Linked DNA regions of Homo sapiens. The protein of the gene in region 2 interacts with the protein of the main gene of each other region in a pairwise test. Each region holds a gene or a part of one and is shown on either strand. Other genes may lie near its edges. The genes, in order: CLN8 and GPM6B.

Region 1 (3,461 bases), on a different chromosome or scaffold from region 2:
AGCCTCCGGCGCCAGAGCTGGGCTCTTCAACACGGCATTTAGCGCAGAAAGTCGTGGTTCAGGCAGTATGGGCCGCTGTGACAAAACACCTAAGACTGGGTAGTTTATAAAGAACAGACATTCAGGCCAGGCACGGTGACTCACGCCTGTAATCCCAGCACTTTGGGAGGCCGAGGCGGGTGGATCATTTGAGGTCAGGAGTTTGAAACCAGCCTGGCCAACATGGTGAAACCCCATCTCTACTAAAAAAACAAAACTAGCTGGGGGTGGTGGTGCATGCCTGTGGTCCCAGCTACTTGGGAGGCTAAGGTAGAAGAATTGCTTGAACCTGGGAGGCAGAGATTGCAGTGAGCCGAGATCACGCCATTGCACTCCAGCCTGGGTGACACAGTGAGACTCCATCTCAAAAAAAAAAAAAGAACGGACATCATTTCTCACAGTTCTGGAGGCTGGAAGTCCAAGATAAAGGTGTGGGCTGATTAGTTTCTGCTGGGAACACTGCATCCTCACGTGGTGGAGGGGATGGAAGGTCAACAGGCCTCAGCTAGTTCTCCGCTGCCTTTTTATGAGGCATTAAGCCATTTGCAAGAGTAGGGGGCCCCACCTCTTAATACCACCGCAATGACAATTACAATGTCATGTGAATTCTGGAGGGGACACGGTCACACTGCAGCATCAGCACCCGGTGAATGTGGTTCTCTTCCCATGTCCGAATTTTGTGAGCTCCACACGGGCAGGGTTGCATCTGTTTTATTCTCTGATTGATTCTAAGCCCCATGTCCCTGGCACAGGATGGCTGCTTGGCAGTAGGGAGTGGATGAACCAGTAGTACCCAGGGCTGCCAGGCAGGGCCCTGCAGGGGACAGACCCAAGGGCTGATATGGGGACACCTGCTGAGGGGGGAATTTACCACGGTAAGGGCAGGGCTGGGAGGCTGGGCAGCCAGTTTCACCCTCGCACAGGCTGCCTGGCAAGACCAGCGGCTGGAGGTGATGTCCTCAGTAGAGAACGGTGGCCACTGGAAACGTGTGGCCAGAAGGGGAAACGCTCGGGCCTCTGGTGGGGGCCAGCCTGGGGTGGGGTCGGCCAGGGTCAGCTGCCTTTCCTTCATGCTGGGGAGGAGATGTTGTGTGCATGTGAGAAAGCATTTGATAGCATGCCAAAAGTTTCCTCCATTATGTGCGTGTCAAGTGTTTGACCAGGTCAGAACTCTTGTTCTATGCGAATGTGCTCACGCAGACAGAAGCGGAGGGGCTCCGTCGCTCTGCCCTCACGCCGCTGAACCGCGAGGGTCTCCCGCTCCTCAGGCTTGCGGCTCGGCCGCGAAGTGTGTCAGGTGTGCATCCTGGGTGCTCCTTTGTGCTCTGTCCTACGGTGACACAGGCGGCGTGGGGTTAGACAGGTACCGGTCAGACTACGGTGACACAGGCGGCGTGCGGTTAGACAGGTACCGGTCAGATTACGGTGGCACAGGCGGCGTGGGGTTAGACAGGTACCGGTCAGATTACGGTGGCACAGGCGGCGTGGGGTTAGACAGGTACCGGTCAGATTACGGTGGCACAGGCGGCGTGGGGTTAGACAGGTACCGGTCAGATTACGGTGGCACAGGCGGCGTGGGGTTAGACAGGTACCGGTCAGATTACGGTGGCACAGGCAGCGTGGGGTTAGACAGGTACCGGTCAGATTACGGTGGCACAGGCGGCGTGGGGTTAGACAGGTACCGGTCAGATTACGGTGGCACAGGCGGCGTGGGGTTAGACAGGTACCGGTCAGATTACGGTGACACAGGCGGCGTGGGGTTAGACAGGTACCGGTCAGATTACGGTGGCACAGGCTGCGTGGGGTTAGACAGGTACCGGTCAGATTACGGTGGCACAGGCGGCGTGGGGTTAGACAGGTACTGGTCAGATGCACGGGCTCCCTAAACCCCTGCTGTGGCTTCGGCAGTAAAGACAGGACGCACCCATGTCACAAGAGGAGCACAGGCAGGGGTGTTGGTGTTGGGGCAGCCCTCAGGGTCTCCAGACCCCAGCCCCACTCACACAGCAGCCTAGGAAGGAAGGGCAGAGTCCCAGGTGTCAGCTGGTGGGTCTCCCAGGAGCTGCCCCTCCCTGGAAGTCACAGGACAGGAATGACAGATCAGGGAACTGCAGGAAGCTGCCACCTCTGGGGTCAGAATATGCCCAGCCTGCGGGGGCTCTCTATCGGGGTCTTCGAGAGCCAGACAGCCTGCCTTGTGCTGCATACCTGGCTTTGCTCTGTGCAGAACCCAGCACACGTGATTTTGTGTGACATGCCAGCAGCCTGGCTCCCAGGACAGGAGGCCTGCCCTGGGGGAGGGGCTGCAGGAGGAGGGGGGGCAGGCACCCATGAGTCTGTCCAGCCTTGTCACAGATGCATCGCCCACCCTGCGGTCCTGATTTCAGCTCACCTCAGAGTAAATCAGAATAAACTGCACCCAGACTTTCACGAATGCATGTTGACGCTTTCAGTTCACCCCTTTCTTTGCTAACTTTCTTCCTATTTTCTTCTAATGCGAGAGCTTATTAATTCCATATTTATCATTTTGAATAACTTTTCTCCTTTTTAGTAACAAAATGTACTTCACTCTTAGTAAAATGTATTTACTATTTTAGTAACAAAAATATACTTGCCTAATCATGTTTAAAATATAGTGATGTGAAAAATTCAGACGTCTCTATTTCCTTTCTTCCGATGACTCAACCCCAAATGTCTGGAATTGATTCCGAGGTATCCAGGACCCACAGCCAGCCATCCAAGAGGAAAAAGAAACCACACCCTTCCTTCTGGGAACCTGGCCAGGAACCCCAGAGCACAGGCGCCTGGCCTTAGTGACACTTCTTTTCCACATCTGCAGGCCCATGGAGTGAATTCATTTCTTTTCTCTCTGCATGTATTTTGCTTTTACCGTTGTGCTGTTTCACGCTTGGCAGCCTCAGTTAGCACTCCAGCCCGCCTGAAGCCGTGCACAGCCCATTCCTGCAGGGTTTGATACCTGCAACCTCAAACCCATCAAAAGAGTCCAAAAATTAAACCAAAGTTAAAATCCTCCATTATTACAGAAAGTTATTAAATGTCAAGTCTCAATCTGAAAAGTTTCTGCCAAAACTTTACATAAAAAACTTTTTTTTTTTAATTTAAAACAGGTTCTCTCTATCGGCCAGGCGTGGAGTGCAGTGGCGTGATCGTGGCTCACTGTAACCTTAAACTCTTAGGCATAAGTGATCCTCTTGCCTCAGCCTCCAAAGTAGCTAGGATCACAGGCGCATGTCACCATGCCTAGCTAATTTTTAAATTTGTTGTGTAGAAATGGGGTCTTGCTGTCTGGCTCAGGTTGGTCTCAAACTCCTGGGCTCAGGCAGTCCTCCCATACTGGCCTCCCAAAGTGCTGGAATTACAGGCATGAGCCACCGTGCCTGGCCTACACAGAAAAGTTTTAT
Region 2 (3,820 bases):
CCAGGGGATTTGGAACACATCCATCCAGTTGCCGATCCCATCGGTGTGTCTTCTGGATCTATTCTTTTTTTTTTTTTTTTTTTTTAAATCCTGAATTAAGGGTCTTAGGCATGGCTGCCATGTTTTTCTCAGAAAACACGTTAACATTGAGCAGTCCATGGTTTTTCATTGTCATTGCCTAGCAGCCTATGCTTGCTTGCCTGAACATCTGGAGACTTACCCCATCCATATGAGGAGATGAGCACAGAGCATGGATGAATCTTCTGCAGAGATACCCTGAATTGCATGGCCTGGCTTGGGTAAAAGTCAGCATGGTGGGGGATCTAGAGGTCCATTTCTGGTCCACAGGGTCCCAGGGTGCTCCCTTCCTTTCAACCAAATATTTATTCAGCCAGCGTTTATTGGGCACCTGTGTGCTGAGTATGTAGAGACAAATTTTTTAAAAGGATAAAAATTTCCAGATCAAAAGTGATAGAACTACTTAGAATCCTCTTGCTTAGGGGTCTATGTGGAGGGCTCATAGCCCCCTTTACCAAGAGGAAATCAGATCATACCATGAAGTGCCTTGACCTTCTGTTTTTTTTCTGTCAGCCCCACTGGGTTTTCTTGCCTTTGGAGAATGTAGCAACATCTATTTCTGAGAGAGAATCTCCTGAACAGTAAAGCAAAAATCTAAATCTGTTTTTTGGGGGTTTTTTTTCTTTCTTTTTTTGAGACAGAGTCTCACCCTGTCACCCAGGCTGGAGTGCAGTGGCATGATCTCAGCTCACTGCAACCTCCACCTCCCAGGTTAAAGTGATTCTCCTGCCTCAGCCTCCAGAGTAGCTGGGACTATAGGCGTATGCCACCATGCCCGGCTAATTTTTTTTTTTTTTTTCCTGAGATGGAGTTTTACTCTTTTTTTTTTTTTTTTTGCCCAGGCTGGAATGCAGTGGCGCGATCTCAACTCACTGCAACCTCCATCTCCTGGGTTCAAGCAATTCTTCTGCCTCAGCCTCCTGGGTAGCTGGGACTACAAGTGTGCGCCACTATGCCCAGCTAATTTTTGTATTTTTAGTAGAGACAGGGTTTCACCATGTTGGCCAGGCTGGTATCAAACTCCTCACCTCAGGTGATCTGGCTGCCTCGGCCTCCCAGAGTGTTGGAATTACAGGCATGAGCCACCACACCTGGCCAATTTTTTAATTTTTATTTTTTATATATTTTTTTTATTTTTAGTACAGACAGAGTTTCACCATGTTGGCCAGGCTGGTTTTGAACTCCTGACCTCAAGTGATCCGCCCGCCTTGGCCTCCCAAAGTGCTGGGATTACAGGTGTGAGCCACCGCACCCAGCCCACAAAAATCTCAATCTAAGGAAGACTGAAAGTTAAGAAATTTTAAGAAGCCTGAGATAACATCAGTAGCTTAGGACCTGGACCGTTTCTTTAGGAGACACAGAAGCACAACTCAACTGCAAATGCACCTCAGAAAAACTCTCATTGGGTTAACTGTTGCCTCAGCAGAAGAGTAGAAAATTGCAATACATGCAGAGGTCACAGTAGGATGTATGGTGGTTTCCAAAGTGTGCCCTCTTGAGTGAAATTGCTAAGGTTCACATTCAGGCTTCTCTACCTCCTGGCTGAAAGATCTTGGGCAAGTGATCATTACCTTCTCCTTGCCCTTGGGTTGTTCCCTTGTAAAAATGGAATAATAATAGTACCTATTTCAGAGGGTGGTTGTGACAAATGTAATAAGTACCACATGCTGAGTGCAGTGCATAGTACATCATAAGCACTCCATAAATTTTTGCTGTCATCATCATTGACCACAAAAATAGTTTCATTGTGCAGTTCTGATCTTATCCCAGCATCTTTTCTGTACCTCCCTACCCTGGTTTTAAATGAGTTATGTATACCTTACCTTGAAGTCAAAAAGATTTTTTCTAAAACATTCTAGAAAAGCAGGTTTCTGCTTCCAAACTTGAAATACCTTACAAGTTTTCAGAGATTGTGGAGAGTGGAGTTGGGATTTTATAAAGGCTTTGTGAGGTTTTACTTGCCTCACACTGTGGCTTTAGTAGGTTCTTCTCCTCAGAGACCTGAGCTGCCAGATGGTGCATTATGACCTGATCTTCTGATGGAATCATTACCCACATCAATGGCACAATTTTTTTTTAATCCTTAAATATTTGTGGTGCCCCAGAGGATATAACCCCTTATTAGGTTTTATGGGATTCTCGGAGATAAACTGGCCATAGCGACCTTATGATCTCTTTGAGATTTCAAGATTGTAATTCAACTAACTTTTATGAGAAGCCTACTCTGTGCCAGGCAAATTGGTAGGTATTTTTCTTTGCAATCCCCTAAGAAGTGGGAAATATTGTATCATATTACCAGATAGAGACCTGAGTCCTCAGGGAGTGCCAGCTGTCACCATGTGTGTAATTAAGCAGTGGTTCGAGCCCAAGACCAGTAGCCCTTTCTGTATAGCACATGGGAGAAAATTGGAACAGGATTTAATCCAGAACATTCTAGACTCTGACGTTCTGAGTTTAAGATAAGGTGACAGACAATACTGCAGACGTCAATGGGAGGACAAGCATTTCATCCAAGAAACAGCAGACCATTAGGTTGTTTGCCAGGTTTTCTGGACTAGAGCTGGGTACCCTTACAGAGAGGGAGCCTGCGTTCACCTTTGCTAGTGCAGCTGGCAATAATTATAGTGCTCTGTTAGTGCTCTGTTGGTCTGAAAAGGAAACAGAAAGAAAAATATTATTGTGAGGAGCCAAATTTTCACTATAAATAGTATCTTCCCCAAATGAGCATTTTAAGAAGCAGGATATGGTGTGTGTTGGGGGAAAGATGTAGAAAATAAAGATCATTTTGGTGATTTACATAAACTTCAATTTAGAAACGGAGGACATTCTCAATGGATCATGCTGGTACTGAAGGGTTGCATTTCAATAGCATATTTTTTAAACTCCCCATTTCCTTTCTATGGTAAAGAATAAATAAAAATGCTGATATAGAATCTTTGCTGGAGATAGAGACACTGACTCTTTGCCACCTGAAATTGGCAGTGAACAGCAGAGCTGAAATGGAAATTGGCAGGTACCACTGGATGTACCCAGGCTCAAAGAACCACCAGTACCATCCCGTGCCAACCCTGGGGGACAGGGCTAGCCCCTTGAGCAGTCCAGGTAAATACAGCCTTGGGGTGAATTCTAATAGCAAGTCAACTGTTATCTTTAATATTATTTGTAATGGCTCTTGCAGCTTGGTGATATTTTATGTTTTGCTTGGTGCATTAATTTGTTCACACGGGCATGGGTGGAATTCGCCCTATAAACATTTTTTAATCATCTTTCTTTTTCTCTCTCCCTCTCCATTCCACCCCATCTTTCTCCACTTTCTTCTCCTTCTTCCCTCTTCCCTCTTTCACCTTCAATCACTTCGTCTTCTCAAAGGGAACAATGTACAGTGAGATATGCCTTTGGTTAACCATGAAATTTCCAATGCCTGAACCAATAATGGGGGAGGGGGGCCACCCACATCCCCCATGTGGCCAAGAACTGGGCCAGGGCCTTCAAGGAGCCTTGGCCCTGAGAGTACTGTGAGTGTCCCCAAATGTCTTCCCAGCCCTGCTGCTCTGCACCACCCTCTCACCTCAGTCATTGCCTTTGAGAAAGAGAAATCAAAGCTGTGAAAGTAGGATTGGATAACCATGTACCCGATTCCCATCAGGTAGGTTCAGTGGGTCCGGTTTCCATTTTCCTTGCTCGTGAGGAACATTGGCCATTCAGAACCGCTAGGTGCTGGATCTGGGTGAGGTGTGCGACA

What was found.
Region 1: the proteins of GPM6B (region 2) and CLN8 interact in a two-hybrid assay, tested with the Homo sapiens proteins (one study listed by BioGRID).

What each region holds. Positions count from the first base shown.
Region 1 is NC_000008.11:1,783,880-1,787,340, forward strand, and holds the end of CLN8 (protein CLN8), read left to right. Parts: 3' UTR 1-2,691; downstream 2,692-3,461. UniProt on the Homo sapiens protein: Could play a role in cell proliferation during neuronal differentiation and in protection against cell death.
Region 2 is NC_000023.11:13,807,010-13,810,829, reverse strand, and holds part of GPM6B (neuronal membrane glycoprotein M6-b), read left to right. Parts: intron 1-3,060; coding exon 3,061-3,180; intron 3,181-3,820. UniProt on the Homo sapiens protein: May be involved in neural development. Involved in regulation of osteoblast function and bone formation. Involved in matrix vesicle release by osteoblasts; this function seems to involve maintenance of the actin cytoskeleton.